4 linked regions of the Homo sapiens genome follow. The protein of the gene in region 1 purifies or fractionates together with the protein of each later gene. This does not show direct contact. Each region holds a gene or a part of one and is shown in the gene's direction. Other genes may lie near its edges.

The links.
Region 2: the proteins of IFI44L (region 1) and LHX2 purify together in Homo sapiens (affinity purification with mass spectrometry, with the first as the bait; one large-scale study listed by BioGRID). This does not show direct contact.
Region 3: the proteins of IFI44L (region 1) and MDH1 purify together in Homo sapiens (affinity purification with mass spectrometry, with the first as the bait; one large-scale study listed by BioGRID). This does not show direct contact.
Region 4: the proteins of IFI44L (region 1) and RAB3GAP1 purify together in Homo sapiens (affinity purification with mass spectrometry, with the first as the bait; one large-scale study listed by BioGRID). This does not show direct contact.

What each region holds. Positions count from the first base shown.
Region 1 is NC_000001.11:78,640,948-78,644,447, forward strand, and holds part of IFI44L (interferon-induced protein 44-like), read left to right. Parts: intron 1-73; coding exon 74-174; intron 175-487; coding exon 488-662; intron 663-827; coding exon 828-862; 3' UTR 863-3,500.
Region 2 is NC_000009.12:124,018,268-124,021,767, forward strand, and holds part of LHX2 (LIM/homeobox protein Lhx2), read left to right. Parts: intron 1-2,831; coding exon 2,832-3,037; intron 3,038-3,500. UniProt on the Homo sapiens protein: Acts as a transcriptional activator. Stimulates the promoter of the alpha-glycoprotein gene. Transcriptional regulatory protein involved in the control of cell differentiation in developing lymphoid and neural cell types.
Region 3 is NC_000002.12:63,602,463-63,605,962, forward strand, and holds part of MDH1 (malate dehydrogenase, cytoplasmic), read left to right. Parts: intron 1-2,233; coding exon 2,234-2,410; intron 2,411-2,817; coding exon 2,818-2,931; intron 2,932-3,476; coding exon 3,477-3,500. UniProt on the Homo sapiens protein: Catalyzes the reduction of aromatic alpha-keto acids in the presence of NADH. Plays essential roles in the malate-aspartate shuttle and the tricarboxylic acid cycle, important in mitochondrial NADH supply for oxidative phosphorylation.
Region 4 is NC_000002.12:135,135,792-135,139,291, forward strand, and holds part of RAB3GAP1 (rab3 GTPase-activating protein catalytic subunit), read left to right. Parts: coding exon 1-141; intron 142-836; exon of another isoform or gene 837-964; intron 965-3,500. UniProt on the Homo sapiens protein: Catalytic subunit of the Rab3 GTPase-activating (Rab3GAP) complex composed of RAB3GAP1 and RAB3GAP2, which has GTPase-activating protein (GAP) activity towards various Rab3 subfamily members (RAB3A, RAB3B, RAB3C and RAB3D), RAB5A and RAB43, and guanine nucleotide exchange factor (GEF) activity towards RAB18.

The sequences.
Region 1 (3,500 bases):
CACACATATTTAATAACTTGTTGACACATTGCTATTTATGATATAAAATAACTGATTTATCTATTTGATATAGGTATAGCATATGTGGCCTTGCTTACTAAAGTGGATGATTGCAGTGAGGTTCTTCAAGACAACTTTTTAAACATGAGTAGATCTATGACTTCTCAAAGCCGGGTAAAAAATGCTGATCATAACCAGATATTATTGTAATAGTATCACAATCATACGTGTGTGTGTTTGTGTGTGTCTGTACGTGTATATGTGCTTACAGAGTGTATTTGCAGGGAAATGAAGAATGGGATCAATTGCTTGATTAATTCAAATTTATATCACACTTTAAAACTGCAATGATCTGAATTATTGTATGTTCCGAAGATAACTTATTAAGCCATTGCTTTTTTGGTTTCTTTCTTAAATTGTATTTAAAATTGGTCAAATTTCAAATATTAAATACAGGACTTACACTTTTTAAATATACTTTCCACAGGTCATGAATGTCCATAAAATGCTAGGCATTCCTATTTCCAATATTTTGATGGTTGGAAATTATGCTTCAGATTTGGAACTGGACCCCATGAAGGATATTCTCATCCTCTCTGCACTGAGGCAGATGCTGCGGGCTGCAGATGATTTTTTAGAAGATTTGCCTCTTGAGGAAACTGGTAATCTGGCCCTTTTCTCCCCCTGTCATAGATCACTGGTGCCTTTTGAAAAATCCTAAGTTATACATCAGTTATTAGATGACTGGGGCCCACCTGCATGCCCTAGTCCTGAAAGCTACATTAGGATATATGTTTCATTTCCACTCTTGTTTGTTTCATTTTCAGGTGCAATTGAGAGAGCGTTACAGCCCTGCATTTGAGATAAGTTGCCTTGATTCTGACATTTGGCCCAGCCTGTACTGGTGTGCCGCAATGAGAGTCAATCTCTATTGACAGCCTGCTTCAGATTTTGCTTTTGTTCGTTTTGCCTTCTGTCCTTGGAACAGTCATATCTCAAGTTCAAAGGCCAAAACCTGAGAAGCGGTGGGCTAAGATAGGTCCTACTGCAAACCACCCCTCCATATTTCCGTACCATTTACAATTCAGTTTCTGTGACATCTTTTTAAACCACTGGAGGAAAAATGAGATATTCTCTAATTTATTCTTCTATAACACTCTATATAGAGCTATGTGAGTACTAATCACATTGAATAATAGTTATAAAATTATTGTATAGACATCTGCTTCTTAAACAGATTGTGAGTTCTTTGAGAAACAGCGTGGATTTTACTTATCTGTGTATTCACAGAGCTTAGCACAGTGCCTGGTAATGAGCAAGCATACTTGCCATTACTTTTCCTTCCCACTCTCTCCAACATCACATTCACTTTAAATTTTTCTGTATATAGAAAGGAAAACTAGCCTGGGCAACATGATGAAACCCCATCTCCACTGCAAAAAAAAAAAAAAAAAATAAGAAAGAACAAAACAAACCCCACAAAAATTAGCTGGGTATGATGGCACGTGCCTGTAGTCCCAGTTACTCAGGATGATTGATTGAGCCTTGGAGGTGGAGGCTACAGTGAGCTGAGATTGTGCCACTGTACTCTAGCCAGGGAGAAAGAGTGAGATCCTGGCTCAAAAAAACCAAATAAAACAAAACAAACAAACGAAAAACAGAAAGGAAGACTGAAAGAGAATGAAAAGCTGGGGAGAGGAAATAAAAATAAAGAAGGAAGAGTGTTTCATTTATATCTGAATGAAAATATGAATGACTCTAAGTAATTGAATTAATTAAAATGAGCCAACTTTTTTTTAACAATTTACATTTTATTTCTATGGGAAAAAATAAATATTCCTCTTCTAACAAACCCATGCTTGATTTTCATTAATTGAATTCCAAATCATCCTAGCCATGTGTCCTTCCATTTAGGTTACTGGGGCAAATCAGTAAGAAAGTTCTTATATTTATGCTCCAAATAATTCTGAAGTCCTCTTACTAGCTGTGAAAGCTAGTACTATTAAGAAAGAAAACAAAATTCCCAAAAGATAGCTTTCACTTTTTTTTTTCCTTAAAGACTTCCTAATTCTCTTCTCCAAATTCTTAGTCTTCTTCAAAATAATATGCTTTGGTTCAATAGTTATCCACATTCTGACAGTCTAATTTAGTTTTAATCAGAATTATACTCATCTTTTGGGTAGTCATAGATATTAAGAAAGCAAGAGTTTCTTATGTCCAGTTATGGAATATTTCCTAAAGCAAGGCTGCAGGTGAAGTTGTGCTCAAGTGAATGTTCAGGAGACACAATTCAGTGGAAGAAATTAAGTCTTTAAAAAAGACCTAGGAATAGGAGAACCATGGAAATTGAGGAGGTAGGCCTACAAGTAGATATTGGGAACAAAATTAGAGAGGCAACCAGAAAAAGTTATTTTAGGCTCACCAGAGTTGTTCTTATTGCACAGTAACACACCAATATACCAAAACAGCAGGTATTGCAGTAGAGAAAGAGTTTAATAATTGAATGGCAGAAAAATGAGGAAGGTTGAGGAAACCTCAAATCTACCTCCCTGCTGAGTCTAAGTTTAGGATTTTTAAGAGAAAGGCAGGTAAGGTGCTGAAGGTCTGGAGCTGCTGATTTGTTGGGGTATAGGGAATGAAATGAAACATACAGAGATGAAAACTGGAAGTTTTTTTTTGTTTGTTTTGTTTTTTTTTTGTTGTTGTTTTTTTTTTTTTTTGTTTTTTTGCTGAGTCAATTCCTTGGAGGGGGTCTTCAGACTGACTGGTGTCAGCAGACCCATGGGATTCCAAGATCTGGAAAACTTTTTAGATAGAAACTTGATGTTTCTTAACGTTACATATATTATCTTATAGAAATAACTAAGGGAAGTTAGTGCCTTGTGACCACATCTATGTGACTTTTAGGCAGTAAGAAACTATAAGGAAAGGAGCTAACAGTCATGCTGTAAGTAGCTACAGGGAATTGGCTTAAAGGGCAAGTTGGTTAGTACTTAGCTGTGTTTTTATTCAAAGTCTACATTTTATGTAGTGGTTAATGTTTGCTGTTCATTAGGATGGTTTCACAGTTACCATACAAATGTAGAAGCAACAGGTCCAAAAAGTAGGGCATGATTTTCTCCATGTAATCCAGGGAGAAAACAAGCCATGACCATTGTTGGTTGGGAGACTGAAGGTGATTGAAGGTTCACCATCATCCTCACCAACTTTTGGGCCATAATTCACCCAACCCTTTGGTGGAGCCTGAAAAAAATCTGGGCAGAATGTAGGACTTCTTTATTTTGTTTAAAGGGGTAACACAGAGTGCCCTTATGAAGGAGTTGGAGATCCTGCAAGGAAGAGAAGGAGTGAAGGAGAGATCAAGAGAGAGAAACAATGAGGAACATTTCATTTGACCCAACATCCTTTAGGAGCATAAATGTTGACACTAAGTTATCCCTTTTGTGCTAAAATGGACAGTATTGGCAAAATGATACCACAACTTCTTATTCTCTGGCTCT
Region 2 (3,500 bases), on another chromosome or scaffold:
AGAGGAAAAAAAAAAAAAAGGAGAGAGAAAGCCCGGGTCCTCCCCCTCCCCTCGGCCCCTCGCTCCTCCCCGGATCCGATCCTGGGGAATCTCGACCCGCCCCCGGGCACTGGGGGCGGGAGTGAGGGGGTTCGGGGCGCCGGCCAAACCTGGGCCCCACGGCTGCCTCCCCCGCCGCCGCCCCCTGCCCTTGCCTCTGGCCGGCCTCGGCCTCGCTACTTAGGGCCGGCTCCTTTCCCTTTTTCTCCACTCCCCTTCTTTCCCCTTTTCTCTACTCCCCCGCCAATAACGGCTTCGGAAAAGGCCTCCCCCGCAGGGACCGGGTCTCCCGGAGCCCCGGGATTCAGCTCGGCCACCGGACCCTCGCCACAAGCTGCGCCTGTTTCCGGGACTCGCTTTCCCCTCCGCTCTCCCTATTTCTTGCTGTCTTTGTAGCTGTCTCTCTGTGGTTCTCCTGGCTCCTTCGCTTTCTTTTCCTCTGTCTGTCCTCTCTTTTTCCTGGCTCTGTCCATCTTCCGTCCCTACCCCCTCTCTCTTTCTCTCCCTCCATTCTGCCTTTCTGTGTTTGTCTTTTTCTCTCCTTTCTCTGCCCTTTCTGTCCCCCTCCCCCGCACTACTACCCCACCTAGGCGGCACTCAGGGCAGGTCCCTTGGGCCCATGGGGGCGCCGGGGTCCCCACGGAGCTCATTAACAGCAGCCAGGCCCAGGCGGGGGCTCGGTGGAGGGATGGGCCCAAAGATACCCCGTAGGGAGGCTGCCCCACCCCCAGTGGAGCTGGGGACTGGGGGAAAGAAAAGGGTTGCTCACCTCAGCGGGTTCCAAGCAGTTCTGGTGGATCAGGTTCAGAGGCATCCTCTGATCCCCTTTAAATTGCCGGACCCGCGCTCTTCACTCTGGGCGTGCTCTCTGTGGGAATGCAGCCCCGGGGGTGAGGGGACCTGAGTGCCGGTGGAAAGAGGCCCCTAGGAGGTGTAGCCCCTAGCTAACAGCTCCAAAGGCAGGGGCAAGACTTGTATCTTGCAAATTCTCTCTGCAAGGGGCTCTTCCCCATCTGGGCAGGGGAAGGGGGAGGTCACCAGCAGAGTAAAAGTCCTTTGGAGGTAGTGTGGCCAGGCAAAATGCAGCATCCCCAGTTAAATTGGAATTTTGGGTACGTAACAAATACATTTTTAGTGTAAGTGTCCCCGGCAATATTTGCATTTTGGAAAAATAACGAATAAATTTGAAATTTGTAGTATAAGTGTCCCGTGTAATATTTGAATTTTAGATAAATGACAATTTTTTAGCATAGCTGTGTCACCTGTAGTATTTGAATTTCAGGTAAACAACAAATACATTTTTAGTATAGGTATGTCCCATGCAATATTTAGGACATGCTTATACTAAAAAATTACTTATTATTTTTCTGAAATTTATATTTAACTGGGCAACCTGTATTTTCATTTGCTAAATCTAGAGCTCTGTTACGGGTATGTGATGAGGGCACAAGATACCTTCTCAGTTCTCACTTTAGGCGGACCGAATGTACACCCCTTATGAGGCTTACCCCAAGGCAAGACCTTAAGTGTGGCATGGCTCGGGAGGTGCCATGAGGAGGCGACCTTGGGAGGGGTCCTGCAGGTCCCCATCAGCTTCCAGGTGGCTGAGCAATTTTCTGAGGCCCAGGTTTTCACCCATATTCCCCACCCCCAATGCCAGCCAGGCATTGGCAGCGTGGCCCCCATGAGGCTCCTTGTGGTTAGGGACAGGCTCCCTCCTCCCTTCGTGGTGTAGTGGAAGAAAACAAGGAGTACTCCAGTGCTAAATCTAGGCTCAACAGATCAAGATCAATCTAGCTGGTTACCGGTGGTGTGGCAGTGTGCAAGTGGCTTCATTTCCCTTAGCGTTAGTTTCCACATCTCTAAAATGGGAATAGTCATAGCCACCTCTCTGAGAGGTAATGATGTACAGTGACATTTGTAAAGCCAAACACACACCATAGGTGTCTACTACATGTTTATTTCTGCCTCGGACTTCCTTCCCCGTCCACTCTGCCGCTCTCTGTGGACTGCCGCAGATCTCTGAACTTCCCCGAGCCTAATTTGCTCCACTTGTTCACGGAGAAACAATCATCTTACAGGGTAGCGATGAGGATTAAACTGCAAAATGCAGTTTCCAACCTTTGGCCCAGTGCCCAAGGCCCAGGGGTCCCTCAGTACTTTTGGGTGTGGCAAAATGAACATGAATCTCTGTTTCAGCAGTTTCTAGGTGCCGGTCCCAGACACGGTAGGGGGAGACGGCAGAAAGCACTCCTCCTTAGAGTGCCTTGGAAAACAGGAGGAGGGCAGGCCCAGAGACCCTGTCCTGCTGTGTCCAAAGTCAAGTGACTTCCCTTGCTGAGCCTCAGTTTCAACATCTGTAAAAACGGGAAAAATAATACCTGGTGCTCCTAGGATTGTTTTAAGTACCTAAAGAAAATGTGCCTGGAAAGCCCTTTAACACATCACCTGGAGTTCAATCGGCCATCAACAAGTCGTAGCTGTTGTTGCTGCTGCTGCTGCTGCTGCTACTATTGTTCTTATTGTAACATAATGGCTCAGAATGATTTTTGGATTCTCCCAGAGCCGGGATTCAGTGCTGCAGTTCTTAGCAGTGTGATCCTGGGTGGATCGCTGTCTCTGAGCCTCAGTGTTTCCATCTATAAAATGGGGATGATGTCCCCCTTTCATTGTGGCGCAGACATGCAGCAGGGTTAAGGATTGAAATGTTTGGCAGTGGGTGGGGCGAGTGTGGATTTGGCATGGGGGGCGGGTCAGGAAGTTCACCCACCGGCTCTGTGTCTCCTCCCTAGCGCTAAGCTGCAACGAAAACGACGCAGAGCACCTGGACCGTGACCAGCCATACCCGAGCAGCCAGAAGACCAAGCGCATGCGCACGTCCTTCAAGCACCACCAGCTTCGGACCATGAAGTCTTACTTTGCCATTAACCACAACCCCGACGCCAAGGACTTGAAGCAGCTCGCGCAAAAGACGGGCCTCACCAAGCGGGTCCTCCAGGTCAGCCAGGGCCAGGGGTGAGGGCATCTGCGACCACCAGGGACTGGGGTGGAACCCTGCACCCCTCGCCGTGGGCCTTGGAAGGACCTTCCACCCTGTGTCTGCTTCTCTGTGTGTTTAATCTTTCTCATTCTCTTTCTTCACCTCTCCAGCCTGTCCCCATCTGTATTTCAGTCTTTTTTTTCTTACTTTGTCTTTTCTCTTTTTCAGTTTTTGCCTCTCTGTTTTTCTGTTTGCGTATCGCTCCATCCTCATTGTCTCCACACTCGGTCTCTTTTCTTTCTTCTAAACAATTCTTAGTTTCTGTTTATTATTCAAGTGACACTCATTTTACACACATTCACATCATAAAAGGTTCAAACATTTCAGATAAATCTAGAGGCCGCCCCACCCCATCCCAGGACGTACACCCAAGGTGACTATCATTAGCTCCTGCTTCTTGCTTCTTACCCACTCTAGTTTC
Region 3 (3,500 bases), on another chromosome or scaffold:
TAACTACAGAGTATTATCAAAACCAGGAAGTTGATGAACTACACAATACTATTAACTAGACTTACTGAAGTTTCACCAGTTTTATATTCACTTATTTTTTTCTGTGTCTTTATGAATGATTCTATGACATTTAATTACAAGTGTAGATTCCTGTAACTGCCCCCATAGTCAAGGTACAGAATTTCTTCATCACTCACAAAAGAACTCCTTCATACTCTCCCTTATGGTCACACCACCCTCTGTCCCTGACATCATTTTTCTGCACTCCACCTCTATAATTTTGTCATTTTGAGAATTTACAAAAGTGGAATCATGCAGTAAGGAACCTTTTGAGACTGGCTCTTTTTCACTCAGTTTAATGCCTTTAAGATCCATCCAGGTTGTTGTTTGTTTCTTTTTGTTGTTTTTCCACTTACCCCTTTTATTTATTCCATTGCCTATGTAAGACATAATACAGTTTATTTAACCGTTCTTTTTTTTTTTTTTTTTTTTTTTTTTTTTTTTTTTTTTTTTTTGAGACAGAGTCTCGCCCTGTCGCCTAGGCTGGAGTGCAATGGCACGATCTCGGCTCACTGCAACCTCCGCCTCCCAGGTTCAAGAGATTCTCCTGCCTCAGCCTCCTGAGTAGCTGGGATTACAGGCACACGCTGCCACACCCAGCTAATTTTTGTATTTTTAGTAGAGACGGGGCTTCACCGTGTTGGCCATGATGGTCTCCATCTCGACCTCCTGATCCTCCCACCTCGGCCTCCCAAAGTGCTGGGATTATAGGTGTGAGCCACCGCGCCTGGCATATTTAACCATTCTTGAACGACATTTGAGTTGTTTCAGTTTGGAGCTGTTATTACCCTTATTTTAAAATTTTCCTTAAAATATCAAAGTGTATTCCTTTTCTTACATGGTAAATACTCAAATGCTTTATTTATGTGTGCTAAAGCTACAGACTCTGGCACAACTAGTTTCTTCTCCCATTCTTTTTGGGACACAGAGGAAGGAAGAATTGCCCACAATGTCACCAAAACAGATCAGCTTCTTAAAATATTTTTCCACATTCCCTTCTGGTTCATCATAAATTCTGTTGTCTAGTTAGGAACAAATTATACATATACCTGATCATAATTTATTTTCTGCACATAAACTTATCAGACAAATAACAAGCAGGCTGATTTTATTTAAATCTACCAAGACATTTCTTTTTTTTTTTTTTTTTTTTTTGAGACAGTCTCGCTGCATCGCCCATGCTGGAGTGCAGTGGTGCGATCTTGGCTCACCGCAACCTCCGCCTCCCAGGTTCAAGCGATTCTCCTGCCTCAGCCTCCCAAGTAGCTGGGATTACAGACATGTGCCACCAAGCCCGGCTAACTTTGTATTTTTAGTAGAGACAGGGTTTCTCCATGTTGGTCAGGCTGGTCTCGAACTGTCAACCTCAGGTGATCTGCCCGCCTTGGCCTCCCAAAGTGCTGGGATTACAGGCGTAAGCCACCATGCCCAGCCCAAGACATAACTTTCTAACCTTTTTTGTGGCTACTGTACTACATGTGATTGCAAGGCATTGCAGGACCCTAAAGTGCTTTCTGGAGTTATAGCTAGAGATTGTTACATATGTTATAATTTTAGAGTGTATATATGTGTGTACACACACACACATACACATATATAAAACCTCTTTCCTTCAGTTTCCTGATATATAAAATGAGGACAGTCATATCTTGGTAATTTGAGTCCTATCCAACTCTAAAATTTCATATTTAGGGTTATTTGAAAATTAATTTCTATATGGTATATAATAAAAATTTTACCTAAATATAAAGTGCCTAAATACCTGATTACTCAGAAGCACTGAGAAGACATCTCCAAGTAAACATTAACAGTGAAACAAAAGATCACATTTACATATTCAAGAAATAGTAAATTGATAAATAATAGTAACGATTAATGTTTTATGTTTGATACACCTACTGTACTAATAAGTTAACCACAAACTATGGGATGCTTCATACCCTTAAACATTCTACTCCATAAGGTTTCAAGTCCACAGTTGTTACCACTGTTAAGCTGTTGTAGGAAATTGCCAAGCAATAAATTTACATTTTTTACAAGTCAATATAACTCTTGTGTTCTCTTGAAATTTCAGAAGCTTTTTATCTTTATTTAAGGGCATTTGTCAAAACAGGTCCCAATTGGAAATAAAAACCATTTGTCTCAGTAATGTATTTGTTTTCAATTTAACTAGATTGCTCTTAAACTTGGTGTGACTGCTAATGATGTAAAGAATGTCATTATCTGGGGAAACCATTCCTCGACTCAGTATCCAGATGTCAACCATGCCAAGGTGAAATTGCAAGGAAAGGAAGTTGGTGTTTATGAAGCTCTGAAAGATGACAGCTGGCTCAAGGGAGAATTTGTCACGGTAAGAAAAATCTGTGAGCCTTCTTAACACTGAGCGTAAAGAACTCTTGAGAGACTCTTAGGACAGAAAACCTTAAAGAGGGCAGGTCTTTCACAGTTGCTCTGATGACTGCATACTTTCGGGATCATAGTAAGCCAGTCATGATCTAGTGTGATCTGATGTGACAGCAGTTGAGATTTATACCAAGATCCATGTCTTTGTCTGACCTATGATAAACTTTGTATGGAGATACATAGTTTCCTTTTTCCAGAAGGATTGGTAAGGCTGACATTGGGTTGTTGCATGATTTTGGAGGGGAAACATTAAGCTCTGGTCATAGCTTTTCACCCCAAGGTCGACTTGGAATTAATGAAAACTTTGCTATCATGACCAAGTAATACTGCTGCCTTCACCTGCCCCCTTCCCAGACTGTGCAGCAGCGTGGCGCTGCTGTCATCAAGGCTCGAAAACTATCCAGTGCCATGTCTGCTGCAAAAGCCATCTGTGACCACGTCAGGGACATCTGGTTTGGAACCCCAGAGGTAAGGATTTAGTGATTTGCACAGGTCACTCTATTTTATTTTTGTTGCCTGATGATATAATATAAAAAGAATATAGCCTTAGCAGTCAGTCAGGTTAGGTTCATTTCTCAGCTCAGCTGCCTATTAACAAGTAAACTTCGGGGTTTGTTAGCCTTGACCTTTCTGAGCTGTTTTGTCATCTTTTACATGACATTACTATTATACACAGGGTTGTGAGGGTTAAAGGAGATTGCACATGGAAAACACCTGGCACAATGCCTGATACATAGTAGGGGTGAATTTTTTTCTTCTATGCCACAGCTTCCTCATCTGTAAAATGAGGATTAGGTTTCCCTGGCCTACTTCACATATGATATGGAAGCGTGGAATGAAATAATATCCATGAAAGTTACCTTGTCACCAGTACCTGGTGCTGATGATAGTTCCTTACACAGTAATGATGTTATGAACATAGTAAGAAAGGGTCACCTGGTTTAATTTTATTAGTTCATGTGTCAGTTGTGTAAACTAATCATCATGAGTATGTGAAACATTGTTATTTTCAGGGAGAGTTTGTGTCCATGGGTGTT
Region 4 (3,500 bases), on another chromosome or scaffold:
CTTAAAGGAAATGGACAAGAGAGTGGCAAGAAAGGAGGACCTAAGGAGATGGCAAATTTAAGGCCGGAAGGACGGCTCTATCAGCATGGGAAACTTACACTGCTGCATAATGGAGAACCTCTCTACATTCCAGTAACCCAGGTAGGATGCACTAGTTCTTTCCATTTTAATTTATTTTGTGGTTTATATAACTTCATCCTAGTAGAAGATAGTGCTTTGAGTAAGGAAAATTATCCAAAAAGTCTATGTTTAGGCCAGATGCGGTGGCTTACGCCTGTAATCCCAGCACTTTGGGAGGCTGAGGTGGGCAGATCACCTGAGGTCAGGAGTTCAAGATAAGTCTGGCCAACATGGTGAAACCCTGTCTCTACTAAAAGTACAAAAATTAGCTGGGCACAGTGGCGCACACCTGTAGTTCCAGCTACTGGGGAGGCTGAGGCAGGAGAATCATTTGAACCCAGCAGTGGGAGGTTGCAGTGAGCCGAGATTGCACCACTGCACTCCAGCCTGGGCAACAGAGCAAGACTCTTGTCTCAAAAGAAAAAAAAAGTGTTTATGTTTAAAGATAAAGATATAGACTGTTTAAAGAAACTAAAGGTAAGGATTTCCCAATGACATAGATAAATGTGGTCTTGATTTAATCAAGGACCTTTAAAAGATTGGACAAAGTCTATGTTTAAAGATTAAAGAAATCTAAATAAACTTTTGGGGCTTTTAGGTTTGCCATTTCTGTAATTGAGAAATGTTTTGAAGTTTAAGTAGATCACGTCATCATATATAAGGTGATTTATAAACTGAGCAGTGAATGCTCAGATGTTTAAAAAAGAAAATCCAACTGCACTTATGTATGTTTTTGTTTAACTTGTGGACAAAGACTTATGGATAGGTGCAAAAAATAAATCCTCTTTTGCAACCCAGAACTCATTGTTCAGTATGAGTTTTGATACATATAAGAAGGGATATTATGATACCTGAGACAGTTAACTGATGGGAATATTGATAGCCATAAAGGTTGGTCCCAGACCAGGCACAATGGCTCAAGCCTGCAAGCCCCACACCAAGGTGGGAGTATTGCTTGAAGCCAGGAGTTCAAGACCAGCCTGTATAAGAAAGTAACAAACACCTCATCTCCACAAAAATTTAAAAATTAGCTGAGTATTGGGGCATGTGTCTGTAGTTGCAGCTACTCAGGAAGAGGAGGCTGAGGCAAGAGTATTGAGCCCAGGAGTTGGAGGCTGCACTGAGCTTTGATGACACCACTGTACTCCAGCCTGGGTAACAAAGACAGACCCTGTCTCTTAATTAAAAAAGATTGATTCTAGGACTGTGGAAGAGATAGTTAAACAGCATGGGATATGAAGGAAATCCTCAGCAGTATTAATTTTGCATTCCAATTTCATGTTGACTTGATACCTACGATGGCTTTTTGTTTTAAAGGCTTTTATCTTGAGAACATGATGTCTGTAGTTAAAGGTATTGGCGTATTCCACACATCTGTACTATTCTTGAGTATGATCGCTTAGGGTGTCAAATTGAGAACCAGGCAGATCCACCACCTACAGTAAAAAGGACCCTAAAGTAAATTGGTTGAAGAAGTTAGATCCCAAAGATTCTTGGTGAATTTTGAAGTCTTCATCAGTATATCCATATTAAAAGGAGATGACAGAAGCCAAAATAAAAGAATTATGGGCTAACAGGACAGCTGGATTAAAATAAGCATCAGTTTCATTAAAAAGGGCTAACTTGAAGATAAATCTTTTGACTCCAGCTCTTTAGAGGATCTGAAGTGACCTTGATGGACAGTGGAAGAAATCACAACATGGAATTACTTGAACAAAAATTTATTGACTTAAAGAAAAAGAAAAAATCCAAAAATATATAGAGAGAACAAAAGTAAATATCCTTCAATTATATGATTAGCTTTTATCTGTTCAAAAATAGTTTGAAGTCATATACACCATTAGGATGTAGAACAGCAATAACTCAACAACAACAGCAGCAATAGTTGTTTTTAAGGGTTTTGTTTTGTTTTTTTTTTGTTGTTTTTTTTTTGACACAGAGTCTCTCTTTGTCACCCAGGTGGGAGTGCAGTGGCATGACTGTAGCTTACTGCAGCCTTGACCTCCTGGGATCAAGTGATCCTCCCACCGCAGCTTCTCAAGTAGCTGGAACTACAGGTGCATGCCACCATGCCTGGCTAATTTTTCGTGGTTTTTATAGAGGTGGGGTTTTGCCCTGTTGTCCAGGCTTGTCTTAAATTCCTGAACTCAAGCCATCTGCCTGCCTCAGCCTCCCAAAGTGCTAGGATTACAGACATGATCCACTGCACCCGGCCTGAAAACATTCTATTGTGAAAATTGTAATCTAGTAAAAATGAAAGAGGCTCAACGCCTGTAATCCCAACACTTTGGGAGGCCGAGGTGGGGTTGGATTGCTTGAGCCCAGGAATTCAAGACCAGCCTGGGCAACATGGTAAACCCTATTTCTACCAAAAAAAAAAAAAAAAAAATTAGCCGACTGGGGTAGCGTACACCTGTAGTCCCAGCTACTCGGGAGGCTGAGGTAGAAGAATCAATTGAGCCCGGGAGGTTAAGGCTGCAGTGAGCTATGATTGTGTCACTGTTCTCCAGCCTGGGCAACAGAGCAAGACCCTGTCTCAAAAAAATAAAAAGTGAAAGCCACCATCCACTAATTTTGACTTGCATTCCTTGAAGTAACTAACAAGTATTATTGGTTTGGGTTATATTTCTTATAACTGTTTCTCTGCATTGATGTATAATACATATATGTGTGTACATATTAATACATGGTTTTATGGATTTTTTTTTTTTTTTGGAGACAGGATCTCATTCTGTTGCATAGGCTGGAATGCAGTGGCATGATCATGGCTCACTGCAGCCTTGACTTGCTGGGCTCAAGTGATCCTCTGACCTTAGCCTCCTAGGTAGCTGGGACTACAAGTGCTCACCACCATGCCAGGCTGATTTTTTCACTTTTAAAATTTTTGTAAAGATGGAGTCTTGCTATGTTGCCCAAGCTGGTCCTAAACTCCTGACCTCAAGCAATCCTCTGTTTCGGCCTCCCAAAGTGCTGGGATTATAGGCATGAGCCACTGTGCCCAGCCTCAATTTCTTATAAACAATTGGTATTACCAACCATATAAATTTTTGTTAACATGATGGTCAAAAGTAGTATCTCAGTGTTTTAGATTGTATTTTTCTGAATTTTCATGAACCTGAGCATCTTTTAATATGTTCGTTAGCCGTCCTTTCCTGTGAATCGCCTATGATTTTTCTTTTAGGTTGCTCCCCTGTTCTTATTGATTCATATGAATTCTTCATATTTTAGATGTGAATCTACAGTTATATATATTGTATATGTTTTCTGCTAGTCATTTTAAAAACATATGTTCATGTATTTACTTAATTATTGAGTTATAACTTAATACAATAAAGTGTACAGATCTTGGCTGGGCATGGTAGCTCATGCCTGTAATCCCA